Linked DNA regions of Homo sapiens: all the other regions are linked to region 1. The links come from fine-mapping of genetic effects on gene expression. A gene starts in region 1. Each other region holds a variant in brackets. All regions are shown on one strand. Distances are from middle to middle. Region 1 holds the start of GALM (galactose mutarotase). Region 2 holds the start of LOC107985871 (a long non-coding RNA gene). Region 3 overlaps GALM (galactose mutarotase).

Evidence for each region.
Region 2: its variant is fine-mapped to the expression of GALM in aorta (GTEx, PIP 0.98).
Region 3: its variant is fine-mapped to the expression of GALM in pancreas (GTEx, PIP above 0.99).

What each region holds. Positions count from the first base shown.
Region 1 is chr2:38,662,445-38,670,627 of GRCh38, forward strand. GALM (galactose mutarotase) reads left to right here and starts at 3,670. Exons shown (of 7, transcript NM_138801.3): 1 at 3,670-3,907. The coding sequence starts at 3,718. RefSeq lists enhancers at 3,422-3,934, 3,935-4,447.
Region 2 is chr2:38,146,569-38,154,751 of GRCh38, forward strand. The region is part of intron 2 of CYP1B1-AS1 (CYP1B1 antisense RNA 1); the gene reads left to right. LOC107985871 (a long non-coding RNA gene) reads right to left here and starts at 3,598. Exons shown (of 4, transcript XR_007086290.1): 1 at 267-3,598. It also overlaps the pseudogene RNU6-951P. RefSeq lists enhancers at 1-1,079, 134-183, 214-313, 385-1,193, 394-573 and 1 more. The variant G/A (reference allele first, on the strand shown) is at 4,924.
Region 3 is chr2:38,689,569-38,697,751 of GRCh38, forward strand. GALM (galactose mutarotase) reads left to right here. Exons shown (of 7, transcript NM_138801.3): 4 at 245-326. LOC124905993 (a long non-coding RNA gene) reads right to left here. Exons shown (of 3, transcript XR_007086292.1): 2 at 7,669-7,802. Among named protein-coding and RNA genes, the nearest start is that of GALM, 28 kb to the left of the region's middle. RefSeq lists a silencer at 3,159-3,453. The variant T/C (reference allele first, on the strand shown) is at 3,623.

The DNA of each region.
Region 1 (8,183 bases):
CAACACTTTGGGAGGCCGAGGTGGGTGGATTACCTGAGGTCAGGAGTTCGAGACCAGCCTGACCAATATGGTGAAACCCTGTCTCTACTAAAAATACAAAAATTAGCAGGGCATGGTGGCATGCACCTGTTAGTCCCAGCTACCCAGGAGGCTGAGACAAGAGAATTGCTTGAACCCGGGAGGCGGAGGTTGCAGTGGGCCGAGATCACGCCACTGCACTCCAGCCTGGGCAACAGAGTGAGACTCCCTCTCAAAAAACAAACAAACAAAAAACACACAAAAAAACCAGACCTTATTCTTCACCTGGCCACCCTGACACCTCCCCTTCTAGTTAGAGGAAATGCTATCTACTTCAAGTAATTCTCCTTTTTTTTTTTTGAGACAGAGTCTCTCTCTGTTGCCCAGGCTGGAATGCAGTGGTGTGATCTTGGCTCACTGGAAGCTCCGCCTCCCAGGTTCACACCATTCTCCTGCCTCAGCCTCCCGAGTAGCTGGGACTACAGGTGCCCGCCACCATGCCCAGCTAATTTTTTGTATTTTTAGTAGAGACGGGGTTTCACCATGTTAGCCAAGATGGTCTCAATCTTCTGACCTTGTGATCCGCCTGCCTCGGCCTCCCAAAGTGCTGGGATTACAGGCATGAGCCACCGCGCCTGGCCAGTAATTTTCCTTTTACATAAATGCCATAATCCCTTTTCCCTTTACCTTATAATCTCATCCTCAGGCCCTTACCCCAAAATAAAAATAAATACCTCCTGAAATTTGACAGTGCTTCATTTTCTAGATTACTACCTTGCATCTGACTTCCCTGCAGATGGAGAATTGCCCCTAGATTTAGGGGTTTTGTTTGTTTGTTTTTAAGTGCACAGATATTCCTTTAGAGTTTCACTGTGGGATAAAAATAGGATATTAGGGTGAGAAAAATCAAGGTTTGTGCCTGACAGTTGATTCAAGCACAAGGTAATGCTATTTGCGACAATATGTTAGTTAAACCCTTCAAAGGAAAATGAAATCAAGAAGTGTACTCCTTACATTTTTTTTTTTGAGACAGAGTCTCACTCTGTCACCCAGGCTGGAGGCAGTGGTGCAACGTCAGCTCACTGCAACTTCCGCCTCCCTGGTTCAAGCAACTCTCCTGTCTCAGCCTCCAGAGTAGCTGGGACTACAGGCACATACCACCATGCCTGGCTAGTTTTTTTTTATTTTTATTTTTAGTAGAGATGGCGTTTCACCATATTGATCAAGCTGGTCTCGAACTCCTGACCTCAGGTGATCCACCCGCTTCTGCCTCCCAAAGTGCTGGGATTACAGGCATGAGCCACCGCGCCCAGGCCTCTTTACATTTTAGGGAGACATCATGGTACATTCATTTTCTACCAAATGGAGTAAAAAGAGCTTCCGTAGAGACATTTAGCATTGGGCAGGCAAATACATTTATTTCCTTCTGTAACAGCATGTGCTTGGCAGAACACTGAGAACTGGAGGTTGAGAAAAAAAAAAGTGGTCTTCCTGCTCACTTTTCTAAGACATCCTTGCTAACACAGCATTGCCAAAGGGCTTGCGTGTGAATCACCACAAAGTTAAGTGGCTGATGAAACTGAGAGTTTATGAGAATTTCTGATGAAGCAGCACATAGGAGTGCCTGTCGGTTATTGTATGAGTGTGATGCAGTCTATAATTTGACTTGTTTGGGTCTTTTTATTATTATACGTTGAGCTTCACTGAAGCCTGTTGCAAGCTTTTTTATTTTTCCTTTGCTATCAGAATTCTTCTGCTTCATGATGGAGAATTGAGGCTTTATGGCAAGAATGCTAAATATACCTTAAATTACAGACAGAAGAAGCTGAGAGATAGTTATTATGTTTTATTAGCATCTGATTCCAGGCACATAATCCCAATTCTCATAATTTCCTAATCAAAGATGCATTTCATTTCTGCACTCACCCCAGTCTAGTTGGATACCCTCTGAAGTACCCAGGAACCAAGCCAAGAGCAGTATCAAGAAAAGATAGATGATTATGCAGATGGCTTGAGTAAAACTTGTCTTTAGGCTCCCAGCATCCTCCCACTTCCTAGGCTCAGTACTCCTCTAAAGTTGCCAGACTTAGCAAGGAAGTACATAGGTGCCTGTATGTTATCTCATTAAGGCCCTTAATAGCTTTATCTTAATCCTTCTGCCATCAGAGCCTATTTTTTTGGGGAAAAAAATTCAGATTACTCATCAAGCCTTAGAGCAATATTTCTCTAAATCTGGTCCCAGATAATCTGCAGAAGAATAACTTGGGAACATGAAAAATGCAGATTCCTGAGTTTCACCCTAGACTTCCAGAATTAGAAATTCCAGAGGTGGGGACTGGGAATATGCATTTTAAATGTCCTCAGCAAATTCTGAGACACAATCAAGCAAGACAATTATTTAATAACCTTAGTGTCTTTCCTCTCCAACTGTACATACCTGAAGACTCCATCCTACTTGTAGAAAAGGAGATAACAAAGGTTCAGTACCTGGCATTTACAAGGACCTCAATCAATACTTGTTCCCTGAATCCCTTCTTAAAGGAACTGTGGACTTCAGGAGCCAGAAGACACCAGAGGTCCCTTTCCAGTCCCTTGAAGTAAAATAAGTCTGAGGCTGTCTCTAATCACCTCCGCACACCGAGGGCCTAATCCATCTACCTGACCCTGTCTGGTCCAAGCTCCTCGAGGCTGGCACAGCTTTGGCCGTCAGGAGAGCCTTCTGGGCAGTGGCTCTAACAGAACCATGTCCAGGACTTCATCCGTGGGACAAAAAGAGTGAATCTTCAGTAAGTCTGTGTGCAGAGAAGCCTGAGATGATTTACCTCATTTCTAAGCTACTACTGTACTTTGTTGTTGTTGTTGTTGTTGTTTTGAGACGGAGTCTCGCTCTGTCACTCAGGCTGGAGTGCAGTGGCGTGATCTCGGCTCACTGCAAGCTCCGCCTCACGGGTTCACGCCATTCTCCTGCCTCAGCCTCCCGAGTAGCTGGGACTACAGGCCCCCACCACCACTCCCAGCTAATTTTTTTTTTTTTTTTTTTTTTTTTTTTTTTTTGTATTTTTAGTAGAGGCGGGGTTTCACCGTGTTAGCCAGGAAGGTCTCAATCTCCTGACCTCGTGATCCGCCTGCCTCGGTCTCCCAAAGTGCTGGGATTACAGGCGTGAGCCACCGAGCCGGCCAACTACTGCTGTACTTCTTACCCCCTGTATCAAAGAGTTAAAATCTAATTTTTTCCCAAGATCGGTCTCACTGTAAGTCTGCTATCTGTATTTTCCCATTCTTCGTCTGATAGCCACCGACATTAATGACCAGCTCATTACATGTTGAGGTGTGGGGAGATGGGGGTAGAACCCCGTCAACCCAGGATTCGAGTTTAGAAAGACTACAAGCCCCAAAATGCAATTTCACCTCCCAAAAACTACCATTCCCAACATGCAATGCAACCAGGACGAGCCAAGGAAAAAAAGTACAAGTGTGGCTGCAAAGTTTGCCCCTCTTGTTACCCTCAGGCAAATGATTGATTTAGAAAGGCCCCAGGGGCTATTTTTTGCAGGAACGGTCACTCCCTAAATCCAGGCAGGGAAAGGGAGGAGTCTGAGCCGAGTCACGCCCCTTCTCCTGTAAACTTGGGTCGCCTCTAGCTTAGCGAGCGCTGGAGTTTGAAGAGCGGGCAGTGGCTGCACACGCCAAACTTTCCCTATGGCTTCGGTGACCAGGGCCGTGTTTGGAGAGCTGCCCTCGGGAGGAGGGACAGTGGAGAAGTTCCAGCTGCAGTCAGACCTCTTGAGAGTGGACATCATCTCCTGGGGCTGCACGATCACAGCCCTAGAGGTCAAAGACAGGCAGGGGAGAGCCTCGGACGTGGTGCTTGGCTTCGCCGAGTTGGAAGGTGGGTTGAACTGTGCCCTGGGCTGCGAGCAGGCCCCAGGCCCACGCTACATACCTCCCGGATCTAGCGGGCCACTTGCAATGCGAGGGACCAAGGGGGAAAGTCGCCTAGCTTGGGACCGTCTGACTTGCAAGCGCATGCATCATAGAGGGCCGTGTGGCCATCCAGCATTTGGGAAAAACTGTAATAAATAAACTATGGCAGTTGGCCTCTGGTTATCCGTTCAGGCTTTGCCCCAGTTAACGTAAAAGGTCAGCTGATGGTATGATACACTTCAGCGATCCTGGAGCGATCTTTGAACTGCCTAATCTTTGAACTGCCTGATACCTGGAGAAGGCTGGAGAGGAAAGAGCAGGCAAGAGGGGGTGTGGCTCCCACTTCTTCCCTTCTGAAGAAGGAAATTCAAATACTTGCCTCTTCTACTTCCTTCTTCCTTGATCAGATTCTCTTTGAGGCCTGGTTGTCTCAGAAATGCTCCACTAAGCTCAGTGGTTGCCTAGTACACCAGCTACCCAATAACCATTTAGGAACAAAATAGAGAAGACCAACTCAGTGTCTTCTCAGAGATCAGGTCTCCTACCAACTAGGATGGACTTTTATCCCAGAATCCATGGGCAATTAGGATCAGGCATTAATTAATACATTTGACAACTCTATTAATCCGATGACCTCATTAAACAGGACAGACAAGGTCCCCACTCTTGCGGTTTGGCTGGGGAGATAGACTTTAACTCAGTAATTGCATAAATAAAGAATGACAATTGCAGCTTGATTGCAGCAAAGGAAAATGTACATCATGCTCTCTTAGCACCATGGTGTAACTAGACAGAAAATGAGGTGTGAAATAAAGCTGGCAAAGGGAAACTGAGAGTTAATACTCTCTGCTCAGTGGTTGGGGCGTAGACAAATTCTGCTGGAGAGGAGGTTTGAGGTTTTCCTTTTGGTGTGTCATTCTGTCTGTTTGGTTCTTCCGATACGTAAGATATGTAACTTGGCTCATGGTTACATGTTGGCCAGACCAGCCTGGCCAGCATGGTGAAACCCTGTCTCTACTAAAAATACAAAAAAATTAGCTGAGCATGGTGGCACGTGCCTGTAATCCCAGCTAGTCAGGAGGCTGAGGCAGGAGAATAGCTTGAACCCAGGAGGCGGAGGTTGCAGTGAGCCAAGATTGCGCCACTGCACTCCAGCGTGGGTGGCAGAGCGAAACTCTATCTTAAAAAACAGAGAGCAAATTTCAATTCCTCAGGGAAAAAAACAAAACTCAGCTTTCTGTTGAACACCACCATGCCCGGCTAATTTTTTTGTGTTTTTGGTAGAGATGGGGTTTCACCATGTTGGCCAGGCTGCTGGCGGGCACCTGTAATCCCAGCTACTTGGGAGGCTGAGGCAGGAGAATCACTTGAATCTGGGAGGCGGAAGTTGCAGTGAGCCGAGATTGCGCCACTGCACTCCAGCCTGGGCGACAGAGTGAGACCCCATCTCAAAAAAATAAAAATATACTCTAACCTTTCCCTCTGCCTTTCTGTGTAACAGCTGACCATAAAGAAATTAAGACCCTCATTCCAGAGGGGTCCTGCCCCATACCCGGAGGAAGAAATGCTGCATGGGGAGGCCAAGAAAAATCTGAACACAGGCCTTGCCGAGTTTCCCCACTCACTCTATTAGCAACAGATCTTACCCTTTTGGTCCAATCATATTTCTACATGGCTGTCCATGTTCCATTGGACCTAAGCATAGAAATGGATTGTTTTCCTTGTATCTGTCGGTCTTCATTCTGAAAGCTCCCGTGTCACATAAAACTATAATCAAATAAATTTGTTTGGCTTTTTTATGTATTTTTTATTTTTTAGAGGTGGAGTCTCGCTCTGTCACCCAGGCTAGAGTGGAGTAGTGCAATTATAGCTGACTTGCAGCCTCGAACTACTGGCCTCAAGCAATCCTCCCACTTCAGCCTCCCAAAGTGCTGGGATTACAGACATGAGCCACTGTGCCCAGCTGTTTTGCTTTTCTCTTGTTACCCTGTGTTTGTTGTAGAGGTGTGGGCTGTGACTCTTACAGGGGAGATATACAACACTCTGTTACTATTTTGATGGTGCTCTGATACTACATTTCTAGTGCATTAAAACCTATGTTAACAATAAACTGGTAACAGTGGTTGTTAAGAAAGGATCCTGGGTGCCCAGGGTGCAGAGGATGGGAAGGAGACTTAATTTTCACTGCATATTCTTTTAAACCATCAGAGTATGTAAGTATATATAAACAAACAGAGGTAAATAATTTAAAGTAATAAGACTTGACAGAGGCCGGCATGGTGGCTCACACCTGTAATCCTAGGAGTCCAAAGTGGGAGGATCGCTTGAGGCCAGGAGTTTGAGACCAGCCTGAGCAACATAGTGAGACCCTGTCTCTAAAATAAATAAAAATAAATAAATAAATAAATAAATTTAAATTTAAAAAAAATTTTTTTAAATACTTGACAGAATAAGGGGTTATCTTGACATTACCATATCCCAAAAATGGTTTTGAGCCATGCGGAAGATCTGAGCGTGGATAATTCCATGAGACATGGTCCTTTTGTAACTGCAGAGTTAGATATGAACAATCTTCAATTTCCCAGACAGGTTATATAAACTGTTTGGATGACAGCCATAACCAGAGGTCAGAATGGTTCAGTTTCTCCCTGGGAAAATGGGATTTTTTTCTTTCATAGAATTCTAAAGAAGAAAATTATATAAATTTTTAGTTACAGTAAGAGAGGAGACCACCCCTCATATTGCCTTATGCCCAATTTCTGCCTCCAAAGAAAGAAGTAAAAACTAAAAGGCAGAAACGAAATCCACAGGCAGACAGCCCGGCACTACGCCATGGGCCTGGTAGTTAAAGATCGACCCCTGACCTAACCAGTTATGTTATCTATAGATTCCAGACATTTTATAGAAAAGCAGTGTGAAAATCCCTGTCCTGTTGTGTTCTGTTCTGATTACCGGTGCATGCAGCCCCCAGTCAGGTACCCCTGGCTTGCTCAATCGATCACGACCCTCTCACGCAGACCCCCTTAGAGTCGTAAGCCCTTAAAAGGGACGGGAATTGCTCACGCGGTGAGCTCGGCTTTTGAGACGCAAGTCTGCCTTCTTCAATCCGGTGTCTAAGGAGTTTTGTCTGCGGCTCGTCCTGCTACAACAGCCTAGAAAAATCAGTAATGCCTCCTATGAGTTTTTCAACCTTTTTTTGTATTTAAAAATGTTTTTTGCCGGGCACGGTGGCTCACGCCTGTAATCCCAGCACTCTGGGTGGGTGGATCACAAGGTCAAGAGACAGTGACCATCCTGGCCGACATGGTGAAACCCATCTCTACTAAAAATACAAAAATTAGCTGGGCATGGTGGCGCATGCCTGTAATCCCAGCTATTCAGGAGGCTGAGGCAGGAGAATCACTTAAACCTGGGTGGTGGAGGTTGCAGTGAGCCGAGATTGTGCTACTGCACTCCAGCCTGGTGACAAAGCAAGACTTCATCTCAAAAGAAGAAAAAAAAAGTTTTTCTTTTTTTTTTTTTTTTTAGTGCAGTGGCGCTATCTCGGCTCACTGCAGCCTCCACCTCCTGGGTTCAAGCGATTCTCATGCCTTAACCTCCCAAGTAGCTGGAATTACAGGTGGGCACCACCACACCCGGCTAATTTTTGTATTTTTAGTAGAGACGGGGTTTCACCATATTGGTCAGGGCTGGTCTCAAACTCCTGACCTCAAGTGATCCACCTACCTCAGCCTCCTAAAGTGCTGGGATTACAGGTGTGAGCCACCACGCCCAGCCTAAAAATATTTTTCATCGGCATGTCCCACCTACAGTCATTATGATTTCTTTCAAAGCCTGTGCTGAAAATATTTGCTTATAAGCCACAGGTATAAACAACCTACCCATACAATCATTGAAACGCCTTCCTTTTCATGTTTCCCCCAGTTGCCACCAAAGACCTGGCTATTAACTGCCATGAGAGGCATTAAGGAAAAAATAGAAAAAGTAAATTTAGTGCCTTTAGAAAACCTGGGTTCAGAAGCAGGGATGAGGAAAAAAAAGGATCAGGTTAGAGGCTGCAGTTTATTGTCGCTCACGCCCAGGAGCACCCTGGTGGGAGCATTGAAAATTCCTGGTTTAAAGTTCTGCTTCCTTCCTTAAAGCTGTGCGACCCCGGGCAATTTACTTAAACTCTCCAGACCTATTTTCTCACGTGAAACAAATGGATTGTGATGATTTAATGAGCCATGGGCTGTGATATG
Region 2 (8,183 bases), 520 kb before region 1:
GTTTTAAGCCACAAGAAGCTGAGGCCCGTTGTGAGGAGGGCAGGGACAGTGGGGCCAGGCCACACGCGACGCGTCACCCACCTCCTGCCTCACCTCCCCCCACTGAGATGTCTGCTGGGTGGGAGGAGGCTTATTGCCAGAGAACAGTCTGGTGTTTTCTGTTCCTGCTTCAGGAAGTCCCCCTTCTCCCGCCACCCCCGCAGCTCCTCAGCCTGGAAACAACTTTTAGAGAGGAGAAGGGAAGCAAAGCTTTCAAAAGCAGATACCTGTGGGGTTTGAAGGGAGGTGCCCCTTGTTCAAGTATTTCTCCCCCAAAATTGAAAGGACACTTCAGATTCATTCATTTTAGTTTTGATGTATCTTCAGTAATTAAGAAGCCACTAAGAAAACTGACCCTGGGAAGGCAAATTCCTGAAGCTGAGTCAGATACAGCCAGCTCTTACCATACCATCTGACCCTCAGTTCCCTCTGACCTCATCTCTTCCCACCTCCTCTCTGTCTGACTCAGCAGTGAGGCCACACAGGCCTCCCTGCTGATTCGAGAATGGCTCCCACCTGAGGCCTTGGGCCCCCCTTGTTTTCGCCCCCACATACCCATCTGGCTTCCCCTTCACTGCTTCCAAGGCTCTCCTCAGAGAGCATCCTGTCAGACCAGTCTTTCCTGGACATGCTGAGTGTACCTTTCCCCTATTTCATTTTCCTTCGTGGCACCTTTTACCACCTGATATGTTCAATGGCTCTATGTTTGTTTGTAGTAAGTCTCGCCTGACTAGAATATAAGACCCATGGGAGAAGAGACTTTCTGCTCTACCCTTGGCACATACCGGGTGCTCAAAAAATATTCAAGTGCTCGCTTCGGCAGTACATGTACTAAAACTGGAACAATACAGAGAACATTAGCACGGCCCCTTCACAAGGATGACACACAAATTTATGCAGCATTCCATAATTTCGAGAAATACAAATCAAAACCACAATGAGATAACATCTCACACCAGTCAGAATGGCTATTATTAAAAAGACAGAAAATAAGAGTTGCTGGTGAGGCTGCAGAGGAAAGGGGAAAGCTTATATGCTCTTAATGGAAACACAAACTAGTTGAGCCACTGTGGAAGACAGTTTGGAGATTTCTCAAGGAACTCAAAATAGAACAACCATTAGACCCAGCAATCCCACTACTGAGTATATACCCAAAGGAAAGTAATTCATCCTATCTTAAAGACACATATGCTCCTATGTTCACTGCAGCACCATTCACAATAGCAAGGACATGGAATCAACCTAAGAGCCCATCAACAGTGGATTGGAGAGAGAAAATGAGGTACAAATACACCATGGAATACTATGCAGCCATAAAAAAGAATGAAATCATGTCCTTTCGCAACATGGATGGAGGTGGAAGGCATTATGACCTCCATAAATGACCTAATGTAAGAACCTAAAACAAAATATTGCATGTTATCACTTGTAAGTGGGGCCTAAACGTTGAAGACACATGATCACGAAGATGGGAACAATAGGCACTGGGGATCACTAGATGGGGAAGGAAGGGAGCAGGGGGCATGGGCTGGAGTGCCACCTGTTGCGTCCTATACTTATTCCCTGGGTGATGGGATCATTGGGATCCCAAGCCTCAGGGTGATGCAATTTACCCATGTAATAAACCTGCATGTGTACCCTTTAATCTATGATAAAAGTTGAAATTAAAACATAAACAAATAAAATCCTGAGTACTGTTTCAAAAAATATATTTGAGGAAAGAAGGAAGGAAAGAGGGATGGAGAGATGGAGGAAGACTAAAGGAAGGATCGTGGCCCTGAGAGAATAGAGCACAGGCCAGGGGTGAGATACAGAGTGAGATGGGAGCTGAATGGGGTCTCTGAAACTAGACATGGAAGACACCAAAAGAAACATTCCTACTTCATCTTTCCCTGTGCCTGGGATAATTTACTCCTGGATGGTAAAGATATGTCTTGGTTTCATCTGTGTTAAATAAACCTGCACGATGTTACAAGCTGGCATTGCTTCATAAGCTTGACCTTAGCTTTCAAATAGGACCTCGATCATTGCTCAATGACCAAGTCACAAAGTTGCCTAATGATATTGGCCCACAGCCATGTTATTGCAAACATGGCAATGACTGGCCAAAACCAGGTGTGCTCCTTACATTTCTGCCCGGGTGATACTCTCAGAGAGCTCCTCGCCATGAGAACTAAGTCAGTCTCCCAGTGCCAGGAGCCAGGACAATTACGGGGCTTTCCCTATTGTGTGTTCTTGCTGCTAACCAGCTCCCAGGCCTAGGCTTCTGAGAAACAGTGTAGGCACACAAGCTGCAGATCTCTCCTCCCTTTATTCTCTCTCCCCTTCCCCAAACCCACAATAGCCTCTACCATAGTGCTTATTCTTTTGACCTGTTCTGATCTGCTAGCCTAACTATTCCCCAACACCTTTAGGAAGATAGGTCTTCCCTGACCCTCAGTCTGAGGTCTAGAAGCCCTTCTGCCTTGCCTCACAGGCATCTTCCCTCCTCCCCCGTCCCCTAGACCAGTCCAACAGCAGCCCGTGCAGCCTCTGAAGTCCACTCCCAGTGCTAGCTGATGGGAACCCCATGGGCTCCTGTCTGCTATACAAATGGAACAGACTTTCTTCAGAGCCAACCCCAGCTGCCCCACTGAAGCTGGTTGCCACAGTGATTTTCAGTCTCATACCAGATTCTGATCTCTTCTCTTGCCCACCTTTGGTGCTGCAGAGTGGATCATCTTGTTTTATACTCAAGTCATCATTAAAATTTATAGAAAAAGAGAGAATTTAAAAAAAAAAACACTAAAAAATCACCTTGTACGCATATACCTCAGAAGATCTTTGGCCTAATGGTAATCTGTGACATTAAGGCAAATAACCAAAAATATGTAATTTTTCTATTTATTTCTTTGAGTGGGCTCAGTTGCAGATATATGAATCTGACCAGGGTCCTGATCACTTCCTGCTCCCAAAGACCACCCTTTGAGCCTGTAAGATCCAAAGTCAACTCAGTGGATTAATGTGCAAGTCTAGCCTGAGCCAGTAAGACATGGTTCCCTCTAAGATGCCAGGAAAGGACCTAGGGCTTCCCTGGGCTGAGCTCTTAGGTAAGCCATGGCCTGGCCTGGCCTCTTAGAGGTTGTGCAAGACCAGCCTCTGTGATCTGCGAAGGCCCTGAGTCCCAGACATCGTCTCCAACACTGACCTAGATCCAGTGCCAGCAGGACAAGAAAGTCCCCTCTGCTTTAACCTTTACATGAAAAGAAACTTTGAAATGACCAATCCACATTTTTTTTGTTTGTTTTTTTCTGCTTTCCACAGCCCTTTTCTGTCTGTAAAACCAACCTCCTCTTCTTGGCTCATCAGAACACTCATTCTATTTTATGGAATAAAGTGCTGCCCAATTGTAGAATCAAAAATACAGCAAATTAATGTTTTTTATATAAAGTTTTTGATACATAATAATTACACATATTTATGGGGTATCTGTGATATCTTGACACAGCCATAGAATGTGTAATGATCAAATCAGGGTATTTAGGATATCCATCGCCTTGAACATGTATCATTTCTTTGAGCTAGGAACATTTCAAATTTTCTCTTCTGGCTATTTTGAGATACTCAATATGTTTTTGTTAACTATAGTCACCCTACTTTGAGGCTGAATACTAGCGCTTATTCCGTCTAACTATATGTCTGTACCTATTAACCAACCTCTCTTCATCCCACACACCCTTCATAGCCTCTAGTAGCTACCATTCTTTTCTCTACCTCCATGAGATCCATCTTTTTAGCTCCCACATATGAGTAAGAATATGCAATATTTGTCTTTCGGTGCCTGGCTGATTTTACTTAACAAGATGCCCTTCAATTCCATACATGTTCCTGCAAATGATAGAATTTCATTCTTTTTTACGGCTTAATAGTATTCCATTGTGTGTGTGTGTGTGTGTGTGTGTGTGTGTGTGTATCACATTTGCTTTATCCATTCATCTGTTGATGGACACTTAGATTGATACTGTATCTTGGCTATTGTGAATAGTGCTGCAATAAACATGGGAGTGCAGGTCTCCCTTTGATATATTGATTTTTTTTCCTTTGGATAAATACCCAGCAGTGGGATTTCTGGATCACATGGTAGTTCTATTTTTAATTTTTTGAGAAACTTCCATAGTGTTTTCTATAATGGCTATACTGATAAATGAATTTAACAAGGTTGCAGAATACAAAATCAACATACATAATCAATAGCATTTCTATATACCAATAATTAACTTGCTGAAGAAGAAATCAAGAAAGTAATCCCATTTAAAATAGCTATAAAAAATTAATTGTCTAGGAATAAATTTAATCAAATTTAATAAATTCTTTCCGATGAAAGAAATTGAAGAAGACACAAACAAATAGACGTTCCATGCTCATGAATTGGAAGAATTAATATTGTTAAAATGACCATACTACCCAAAGTAATCTACAGATTCAATCTCTTATCAAAATACCAATAACATTCTTCACAGAAATAGAAAAATAATCCTGAAGTTTATATGGAACTACAAAACACCCCAAATAGCCAAGCAATACTGAGTAGAAAGAACAAAGTGGTAGGCATTACACAATCTGACTTCAAAATATACTATATTTGGTTACATATAGTAACCAAAATGGCATGATATTTAGTATAAAAAGACATATAGACCAGTGAAACAGAATAGAGAACCCAGAAATAAATCCACGTATTTATAGCAAACTATTTTCAACAAAGGTGCCAAGAACATACACTGGGGAAAAAATACTCTCTTCAATATACGGTGTTGGAAAAACTGGATATCCATATCCGGAAGAATGAAATTGGATCCCTATTTCTCACCATATACAAAAATCAACACAACATGGATTAAAGAC[G/A]TAAATGTAAGATCTGAAACTATAACACTACTAGAGGAAAACACAGGAGAAATGCTTCAGGACATTGATCTAGGCAAAGATTTTATGGCTAAGACCTCAAAAACACAGGCAGCAATTAAGATCTTTAAACCAAATTTGTTGTAATTTTGTCTTATGACACTAGCAACACAAGTGAATTTAGAACCATTTGTCTGGTCACTTACCGTAGAATTAACCACCTTCAAAACATGTAACGACTTTACCACTTAAACCCTTACCATTTTGTTATGGTCAGGGATACTGTGGGCCAGGTATTCAATAAGGACACAGTAGAAATGGCTTGTCTCTGTTCCACAATGTCTTGGACCTTAGCTGGAAAGAAGCAAAGGCCAATGGTTACTTGATGGCCGGGAGCAAATATCATCTCAAGGCTCCCTTCCTCACAGGTCTGGTTCCTATGCTAATAGGACTCAAAGACGAGGATAGGTGACTCATTACCTACCCATGGCCTCTATACATGGGTTGGTGTTTTCACAACATGGTGGCCTAGGTATTCAGACTCAAGGCTCCAAGAACTAGTGTTCTAGAAAACTAAGAGGAAGCTGCGTCACTTTTTATGATTGAGCCTCAGAAGTCAAGCAGTATCACTTTCCCTACTCTACTGTTTGAACAATTACAAGCCCACTCAGATTCAAGTGGACTCCACGTCTTGATGAGGGGGAACTAAGGTCACAACGTAGAAGAGCACAGACGATAGGAGACACTGGCCATCTTTGGAAAATACAATTTGCCACTCATCATGTGTTAATGCACAGATGAGGAAGTGCTATCTGCTCTTCTCCCCTCCTCAGCTCACCCTGACTTCTGTGTTTCCAGTCCTGATTATTTATAACACATGTTCAATATAACAAGGATGTTTTGAAGCCCAAAGGAGTGAATCCTTTCCTAGCCTTTCAAACCAAGATAAGGAAAAAGTGGAAGAAGACATTAAGACATGCAGCTCTAAGGAACTATCCAAATTACACTAGGTAGATGCCCTGCAGATGTTTAACTTCAAGATTTCCAGAGGCCACGTGTGTGTCAGTATCAGAGAATCAAGTTTACATTCTCAATAAGTAGATGTTGAGAATATACAGCTGATCCCCACTATTTGAAGATTTTTGCATTTGTAAATTTGCCTACTGACTAAAATTTATTTGTAACCCCCAAATCAGTATTCAGAGTTTTTGCAGGCATTTGTAGGCATGCACCAAGTGGCAAAATATTGAGTTACCTTATGTGCACGTCAACAGACGAAGGTGAACAAGGCAATACTCTGCCCTCTTGTTTCCATTCTCATACTGTAAACAAGTGACCTTCTGTGGTCAACCTAGTGCCTTATTTTTCAAACTTTTGTGGTTTTGTTAGCAATTTCACTCTCTAAAAATGACCCTCAAGTCTAGTATTCCTAAAAACAATAAGGCTGTGATGTGCCTTACAGAGAAAATACATGTGTTAGATACACCTTGCTCAGGCATGAGTTAAAGTGCTGTTGGCTGTGAGCTCAGTGCTGATGAATCAACAATATATATTAAGTAAGGCATCTTTAATCAGAAACACACATAAAGTAAGGTTATCTATTGATCAGTTGGCAAAAATGTAACTAGAGGCTCACTGGAACCTAAACCTGCATTTCCCTTAGGAGCAGTGGTTCAATATTTGCTAATTCATTGTTTGCAGTGACTTTATAGAGCATAACTTATATTACAAATAATGAGAATCAACTGTACCGTAGATCAGGACTTTTATAAGCCCTGGAGATACAACAGTGACCAAGCAGACCAAAATCCCTGCTGTCATAGAGTTTATATTCTAGAGGAGAGGGGAAAACATAAATGAAATAAATAAATAAAAGATATGTATGTTAGAAGGTGATAAGTGCTATGGGAAAAAATAAAGCAAGTGATGGGAGGTGGGAGTGGGCATTCAAGGTGGCCTTTTTTGTTGTTGTTACTATTGTTTTCTGTTTCTTTACCAAAAAAAATGGCCAGGGTGGACCTCAATAACAATCAGATAACAGTTGAGACAGCTGGTGAAAGAGATGAGGAAGAACACTAAGCGATTTCCCGGAAGACAGCAGAAAGAACAACCAGTACACAGGCTGAGGATGTAAACAAACCCGCCATGTTGTGGAAACCAGGAGGAGGCTCATGTGCCCAAAATGCAGTCAGTAGGAGATAAGGTCAGAGAAGTAAGAAGGTGTCAACTCAATAGGGCCTGGCAGCCCATTGTAATGACTGGGGCTTTCACACTGAGTGAAAGATGGTAAGCATCCAAGGGAGAAACAGGAGAGCAATTAAAAGAGTGGCAAAAATCTAGACTTGGAGAGTAATTACCACCGATTATAAGAAGTGGTCAGGTTCCAGATGTCTTCAAAGGCAGAGCCAACAGGATTTGCCGGTGGATTGCACGTGTAATTGTGAAAGAAATGATGATGTCAAACATGACTCCAAAGTTTTTGGCCTGAGAAGCTGGAAGTTGCCATTCTAAGACAGAAAAGACTGTAGATCAAGCAGGTTCTGGAGGGGATTTCAATTCTACTCATTTTAAGGTGAGATGTCTACTTAATATCCAAGTGGAAAAATAAGGTAGGCAACTGGATATACAGGGCTGGAATTCAAAGAAGTCCAAACTGGTAATATACATTTTGAGTCCTCAGCATAAAGATGGAATTTAGAGACATGTAACTGAATGAGACCACCAAGGAATCGGTGTAGGAAGAGAAGAGGTTGAAGAATGGAATCCTGAGGCATTCCAGTGTCAAAAGAAGAAATTGAGAAAAGCAGATTGAGAAATGTGGCCTCCTGGAAGCTGGATGAAGAGAGTCTTCCTAGAAAGAGTGAATGATTGTTATGTCAGCATGCCCAGAAGTGGGGTAGGATGAGGACTGGGAAGAGAGAAAGTCCTGATTTGTAGAGTTTGCCAATTTCCATGGCGAAAATACTCCCACCAGAGTTGATTTCAAGCTGTTAATGTGATGTCATTGAATGCAGAGTTTAGAAGAGATGCACACAATTGGCTCTCAGGAGATATTGCAAACTGATCTCAGCAGACATTGCAAGCTGATCTCAGCACACCCCTGACAGCTAATGATATCCATTGCCTCAGCAGGCTTTGGCATCCAAGAGGGAACTAACTGCCCAAGCAAGTCTGAACGTGGCATGGCTGAATCTCTGTCATCTGGACAGGGCCAAGCAACATTTATCTTCAATATGGTAGGCTGGCAACTTTCTCAGAGGGCA
Region 3 (8,183 bases), 27 kb after region 1:
CCTTCATATTCTATTTAGAAAAGAAAATGCATGCACACTTGAAAGTTTCTTCCAAATTTATCTGTTGCTATTTTGAGGCCTTATCTACCTCCACTTAGTTGATTATATTTAATCATGACCATCAGCCAAACAAGATTTTAAAAGTTTTTGTCAATGCCTGAAAACATTTTTGCAAGATAAGTTAAAAAACAAATATATGAAATAAGACTAAGCAGAAAACCTTTCCCCTACCTTTTCCTCCCAGGCTTCCCCAAATATAAATGACCATGAAGTCACCATAGAAGCGGATACTTATTTGCCTGTGGATGAAACCCTGATTCCTACAGGTTGGTGAATTTAACCTTTTTGTGTTATGTGGGATCATGGATTGGCTCTCGAGGCCAAGAAAGGACATTAGTGGAGAAAGCGGTGAAATCTTAATAAAGTCTACAGTTTAGTTAATAGAATTATTCTAGTGGTAATTTCTTAGTTTTGATATGTGTACTGTGTTTATGTAAAATGTTAGCATGAGGGAAAGCTGGGACAGAGATGCAGTATTTTTACCACTTTTCTGTAAGTCTAAAATTATTTCAAAATTTCAAAAATTTTTAAAAAATGGTGAGTAAGATAATACTTTACTGGGGCTGGGCGCGGTGGCTCACGCCTGTAATCCCAGCACTTTGAGAGGCCAAGGCGGTTGGATCACTTGAGGCCAGGAGTTTGAGATCAGCCTGAGCAACATGGTGAGACCCCGTCTTATTTTTTTTTAAGATTAAAAAAAAATTTTTTTAATGCAAAAGAAACTAAAGTTAAAAAAAATTTTAAATAACTTTACTGGATACTCATCTTACACTAGGTAACAGCTTTTGTTTTAGCTGGCTTTTTTGGGAGGGGGGCGGTGCGGGAGGGGATAGGGTCTCATTCTGTTGCCCAGGCTGGAGTACAGTGGCACAATCTCAGCTCACTGCTGCCTAGACCTCCTCCCCAGGCTCAGATGATTCTCCCATCTCCACTTCCTGAGTAGCTGGGACCACAGGCACACACCACCACGCCTGTTGTATTTTTAGTAGAGACAGTGTTTTACCACGTTGCCCAGGCTGGTCTCAAACTCCTGGACTCAAGCAATCTGCCCGCCTCAGCCTCTCAGAGGGCTGGGATTACAGGTGTAAGCCACTGCGCCCGGCCACTTTGGCCTCTTTAATGGGTTGAGTTTATGGCTGCTAGTTCAAACTTTTTATGAGGAAGAAAGGTAAGCATGTGAGCCTGCATACCCAACAGCAACTTCAGGTAACAGCAGGCATTAGGAACTCCCATAAATATAGTGACTACAAAACTAATTGGAATAATAATGAAAAATTGAGCTCAATGGGGTCAAATTTTTGGCATCACAGTTTTTGAATATTTTCCTGGCTCCAGGGCTGAGTTTAAAGGCTTTTCTGTTTGTCTTGGTAGCATGTGTCATCTTGTGATATTTACATGACTCAATAGAAGGGCATGAGTAAGCTGGCCCATCTGGTCCTAGAGGCAGAATTACTGCAGTAGAACTATATGTTGTGAACTGCAAGGAAAAAATAGTGGTGGCTGCTGTTTTGTGACTGATAAGGAAGAAAGTGAATCAATTAGCTTATAAGTGGAGGTTATGAAATAAGTGCATATTTATTTGTGTATATTTATAAAATCTTCTCATGCTATCCGGTTGAGTTGATCAGATGAAAATCACAACAGGGCATAATTTGTGCATTTAAAGGCCTGTAAAGGCCAAGTTATTTTACTTGATTGTAAAAAATCATTGTGGCAAAGCACAGTAGGCTTAACATGCACTCTAATGGACTGCATAAAACTTGCGTTCGCTGGGTATGGTGGCTCACACCTGTAATCCCAGCACTTTGGGAGGCTGAGGCAGAGGAGGATCACTTGAGCCCAGGAGTTCGAGACCAGACTGTGCAACACAGTGAGATCCCATCTCAACAAAAAATTGAAAAAAAAAATAGCCAGGTGTGGTAACACGCACCTGGGGTCCCAGCTACTCAAGAGGCTGAAGCAGGAGGATCTCTCGAGCCCAGGAGTTGGAGGCTGCAGTGAGCCGTGATCTCTGCTGCACTCTACCCTGGGCAACAGAGCAAGACCCTATCTCAAAAAAAAACCTAATTGGGAATATATGTGTTATATTTCAGTAGTTTTTTTTTTTTTTTAAAAAAGACCAAACTACCATTTATAATCACCATCTTTTCATGAAAGAATATTTTAGTACCATAAAAGTGTAAACAAATTTAATCTCAGAATAAGGAACAACTCTTTATGTTGAATTTATGTAGCTTTTTAAAAAATAATATGGTACCACTTGGAGCCAATACTATAAAAAAAATAAATAGCAGATTATCCAAACGTATCTCAGTTTTCTGGGGACCAGTGAAAATGTTATCACTAACTCATAATTCAGAACTAGTAATTGATCTGTAAGGCCACTTCTCTCTCTTGCATTCTCCAATTCTACGAGGCTCCTAGCATGACATTTTACTGCTATTTCCACAACTCTTCAAATCCTTTAGAGCTCTATCATTGAAGTAAATAAGTTGCTGCAACTTCAGAGCTCATGAAAAATTTGTAATTCTCTCCTACCTATCCATACTTGAGTCAGACCTACATGTTATACCTGTTTGCCGAGTGACACTTAAGCAGAAATTGTAGTATTGTTTTCTCTTTTCTCAGAAGTCCTTAAGAAACAAGCTAATTGTCTGATTCCTTTGAAACTTCCTCCAAAAATGGGTGGTAGTAACTGCTACCCTGCACTTTAGGAATGTAAGAATTCACATGTCTGGCCCACTTTCCACTGAGAACAAATCTCTAGGAGCCCAGATTTTCTCTCTTTTTTTCTTTCTGTTTTGTAGAGACAGGGTCTCCCTATGTTGCCTAGGCTGGTCTTGAATCCCTAGGCTCAAGCAATCCTCCCACCTGGGCCTCCCAAAGTGCTGGGATTACAGGTGTGAGCCACCATGCTGGTCCTCATCTGACTCTTAACACTGATCAAAAGCCCATGAGCTTAATTTTGAAAGAAATCCAAAAGGCTTGCCCATCATTTGATCACTCAGAAGTGCTGCTGGGCTCTCTAGGAGTTGGCAGTCTATGGGAAGGGTCAGCCAGAATTGTGTCCATTAATCTGGAAAATATCAGGATAGACATAACTAGGAGACTTGGCACAGAGGGCAGGCACTGCTGAGGGGGCTTCCAGATAGAGGAAATGAGAGTTAAATAAAACCTGGAAGGGAAAGTGGAAGTTTGCCAGGGAGTGAGGAGGAGAAAGGTGTTCCAGATAAAGATGAACAAGCGTGGGCGGTGCAAGAAATAGCAGGACTAGCCCAGGGAAGTGCTGTGCTTTTGAAGCAAAGCATTTGGGGCATAATTTTAGTGGCAGAGAGTGGATGGGCCTGGAGAGGTTGATTGGGGCCATGTCAGATCTGTACCAGGCTCTGTGGAACTGCAATCCCTAGGGTGGCCCTGGGTGGCCCCAGGCTGGCCTGGAGCTCAAGGCCGATCCACATAGCTGACTCACAGGTGTGCCTGAGTCCAGTCTCAAACTTCAGCGTGTTCTGCCAGAGCTGGACTGAACCACAAGGCCACTTTCCTGAGACGTGCTACAAGAACC[T/C]GTTAGACCAGGTCGGGTGCAGTGGCTAATGCCTGTAATCCCAGCAATTTGGGAGGCCGAGGTGGGCAAATTACTTGAGATCAGGAGTTCGAGACCAGCCTGGCTAACATGGTGAAACCCTGTCTCTACTAAAAATTCAAAAATTAGCTGGGTGTGATGGTAGGCGCCTGTAATCCCAGTTACTTGGGAGGCTGAGGCAGGAGAATCGCTTGAACCCAGAAGGCAGAGGTTGCAGTGAGCCCAGATCACGCCACTTTACTCCAGCCTGGGAAACAGAGCGAGACTCTGCTTCCAAAAAAAAAAAAAAAAGAGAGAGAGAAAATAACCTGTTAGACCAGCCATACTCCATTAAGACTTCTCAAAATAAATATGCACTATCTACCGACTGTGGTTTTGTTGAATTGAGAAAAAGAAGATACTGATTATCTGTGAGATAAGGTGAAGCTTTATGATAATAATAGCTAGTATTTCAGGGAGGACTTTATAAATAATTCATACCACAAGCCTGTAAGGTAGGTTCTGTTCATTTTTCTTATTTAACAGATGTGAAAACTATAGAACAAGGAGTTAAAGTACCTTACAGAGGATGACCCAGTTAACAAGTTGGGGAAAGCCGGGATTCACACCAAGGTAGTCTGGTATTAGAACTCAGGCTCTTAAGTAGACCTGCACTCTACAGATCTTACAATGTGGTTAGATGTCAAGAAGGTTTGGTGCCAGGCACAGTGGCTCACACCTTTAATCCCAGCACTTTGGGAGACCAAAGATTGGTTGAGCCCAGGAGTTCAAGAGCAGCCTGGGCAACATAGGGAGACCCTGTTAATACAAAACATTTTTTTGAATTAGCCAGGAGTGTTGGTGCATGCCTGTGGTCCCAGCTATTTGGGAGGCTGAGGTAAGACAATTGCTTGAGCCCAGGAGGTCAAGGCTGCAGTGAGCTGTGATTGTGCCACTGCACTTCAATGTGGGTGAAGAGCAAGACCCTGTCTCAAAAAAAAAGAAGAAGATTTGGGAGGTAGGGGAGAGGCAGAAAGGAGTGAGGAAAGAAAGAAAAGAAAAGTAAATTAATTTCTTTACTATATAAATACCCAAGTGCAACATATAGTCAATAAATGAGAAGTAAGCCAAAACAAAGAACAGACTTTTGCCAGCTGTCAATCCTCAGCTCTTTTGCCACCTTTTGTACAGGGAGCCTCCCCAGTCCTCTCACTGTCTCCTCCTTGTTCCTTCCTCCCTTCAATTTATTTCTACTTTTCTGCAAAGAAAACAGGAAACCAAGTTTGTTTAAATTAAATATAAGAAAGGGAGAGAGAGAAAGAGGAAGGAAGGAAAGGAAAAAGGGAAGGAGGGAGAGGTTTTCTTGAAATTAAAGAGCATGAATTTAAGTGTCTGGCCTTGTCAGTCTGACAAGAAAGGGAAAGTCAGGCTGGGCGCAGTGGCTCAAGCCTGTAATCCCAGCACTCTGGGAGGCCGAGGCGGATGGATCACGAGGTCAGGAGATCGAGACCATCATGGCTAACATGGTAAAACCCCGTCTCTACTAAAAATACAAAAAAATTAGCCAGGCGTGGTGGCAGGCGCCTATAGTCCCAGCTACTCGGCAGGCTGAGGCAGGAGAATGGCGTGAACCCGGGAGGTGGAGGTTGCAGTGAGCCAAGATCGGGCCACTACACTCCAGCCTGGGCAACAGAGCAAGACTCCGTCTCAAAAAAAAAAAAAAAACAAAAAAAGAAAGGGAAAGTCAAGGGAAAGTCACCTCAGGTGTCATTGTTCTGTTGCAGCATATGGTGTTCCTGACAGATCCCTTGTCTTTCTGGTTCTTGGTTTTCTCATATGCAGAATCTTGTTATGAACAAGTTGTGTTGAAAGTTCACATTCTTTAAGTATGTATGTTGGTCATCTCTGTTGAAAATGATAGAAAAATCACCTTCGGTAGAAAATTTACAAACAGGCCGGGTGCAGTGTCTCATGCTTGTAATCCCAGCACTTCAGGAGGTGGAGGCGGTTGGATTTTTGAGCCCAAGACTTTGAGACCAGCCTTGGCAACACAGTGAAACCCCATCTCTACCAAAAATACAAAAATTAGCCAATCTCACAGCCCAGTCTCAAAATAAATAAATTAAATAAATAAATAAATAAAGTTTCAAAAAAAGAAAGCAAACTTACAGACACAGTTAAAGAAAAGCTGTACCATTTACAGGGTGGCGTTCAGCTATCTGGAGCAGTCCCTTATGGTGGGTACTTCATTTATCCTGGGGAGATGCTGGATAATGAGTTCGTTTTAGACCCTTTGCTCTACCTGGCTTTTCCTGGGGTGGCTGCTTGGTTGTGCTGAAACCCTCAGAAATCAACAGTAGAAAACTTCTCTAAAACAGCTTTGGCCTTTTTGCATATGAATGACTTTTACTGCGTAAATCAGTTATTTTGCTTACCATCCTAGTCCTCTGCTTTCCACCCCAAATCCTTGTTTATGTGTGTGTGGTTTTGTTTGTTTGCTTGTTTGTTTGCTTGTTTGTTTTTTGAGACGGAGTCTCACTCTGTTGCCCAGGCTGGAGTGCAGTGGCTCGATCTCAGCTCTCTGCAGCAACCTCCACCTCCCGGGTTCAAGTGCTTCTCCTGCCTCTGCCTCCTGAGTAGCTGGGACTACAGGCGCGCATGCCACCATACCCGGATAATTTTTGTATTTTTAGTAGAAATGGGGTTTCACCATGTTGACCAGGCTGATCTTGAACTCCTGACCTCAAGTGATCCACCCGCCTTAGCCTCCCGAAGTGCTGGGATTACAGGTGTGAGCCACCACACCCCGCCTGCGTGTTTGTTTTTTAAATCTCTCTTCTTAGGGTCATGAGATTTCTCATTAATTTCACTTAGAGCTCCTGGAGAGAAAAGCCTCTATTATTGTCACTATAACAGTAAAAAAAGTGTAGAGATTTTTTTTTTTCTTTTGAGACAGAGTTTCGCTCTTGTTGCCCAGGCTGGAGTGCAATGGCGTGATCTCAGCTCACTGCAACCTCCACCTCCCGGGTTCAAGCGATTCTCCTGCCTTGGCCTCCCAAGTAGCTGGGATTACAGGCATGTGCCACCACACCTGGCTAATTTTGTATTTTTAGTAGAGATGGGGTTTCACCATGTTGGTCAGGCTGGTCTTGAACTCCTGACCTCAGGTGATCCACCTGCCTTAGCCTCCCAAAGTGCTGGGATCACAGGCATGAGCCACTGTGTCCAGCTTTTCTTTTTCTTTTCTTTTTTTTTTTTTTTTTGAGACAGGGTCTCTTTCTGTTGCCCAAGCTGAAACAGTGACACAATCATAGCTCACTGTAACATCAAACTTCTGGGGCTCAAGCAATCCTCCTGGCTCCGCCTTCCAAATAGCTAGGATTACAGGTGCACATCACCATACCCAGGTAATTTTTTCTTTTTTTACACGAAAATGTCTCAACATGGATTTTTTTTTCTTTTTTGGCAGAGATGATGTCTCACTATGTTGCCCAGGCTGGTCTCAAACTCCCTGCCTCAAGCCATCCTTCCACTTTAGCATCCCAAAGTGCTAGGATTACAGGCGTGAGCCACCGCACCTACCCCCAAGAAAGCTTTTTTTTTTTTTTTTTTTTTTTTTTGAGACAGAGTCTTGCTCTGTCAACCAGGCTGGAGTGCAGTGGCGCGATCTCAGCTCACTGTAACCTCTGCCTCCCATGTTCAAGCAATCCTCCCGCCTCAGCCTCCCGAGTAACTAGAATTACAGGCACATGCCACCACGCCCGGCTAATTTTTGTATTTTTAGTAGAGAGGGGGTTTCACCATGTTGGCCAGGATGGTCTCGAACTCCTGACCTCAAGTGATCCACCTGCTGTGGCCTCCCAAAGTGCTGGGATTATGGGCATGAGCCACTGCACCCGGCCCCCAAGAACTCTTCAAATGCACCTAGTGTCACAAGAAAAGATAGTTAAACTGTGTCTGAAAAAGTGGCTTATGTGGGGAAATTTGTGATGGATTTAGGGAAACTTAGGGTAAATTTTAAACATAAGGCCTTTTGTCAGATCACCTACATTCCTCGGATTGTGCGTGGGTTTGTCGCAGGTGCTTGATGTGACAAATTACACAGCTTCTATTGCTTCATTTGATCAGCCGCCTGTTGACTTTCAGCCAAGTCCTGCAGGGTTGCTTCTCAGATTGTATCTTTCTGCAAGACAAAGATGTTTTCATAGTCTCTCTTTAACTTCTCCCTTTTGTGGCTATTAATTTATACTTATATGTTTTTCAACTCCTTATTTTTGTTTTCTCTTTATAAAAGTTTTAACGTGTGCTATTCTTGAGGGAAATACTGATGCATATCTAAACTTTAGGGGTGTTTTTCACCCTGGCTACAGACACTCGGTAAATAATTTTTCAGGTGATGGGAAAACACATCATCATGAGAATGTAGCAACTTTTATTTTGCAGTAACTGTTAAAATTGTGGCCACAGTGCTCAGTAAAAGGGGACCTTCCCCCTGTAGGTGTTTGGGGAGGAGTGACGTCCTGTCCTCCATTTTGTTAGTAACCCACTTATGGATGGGGCATTA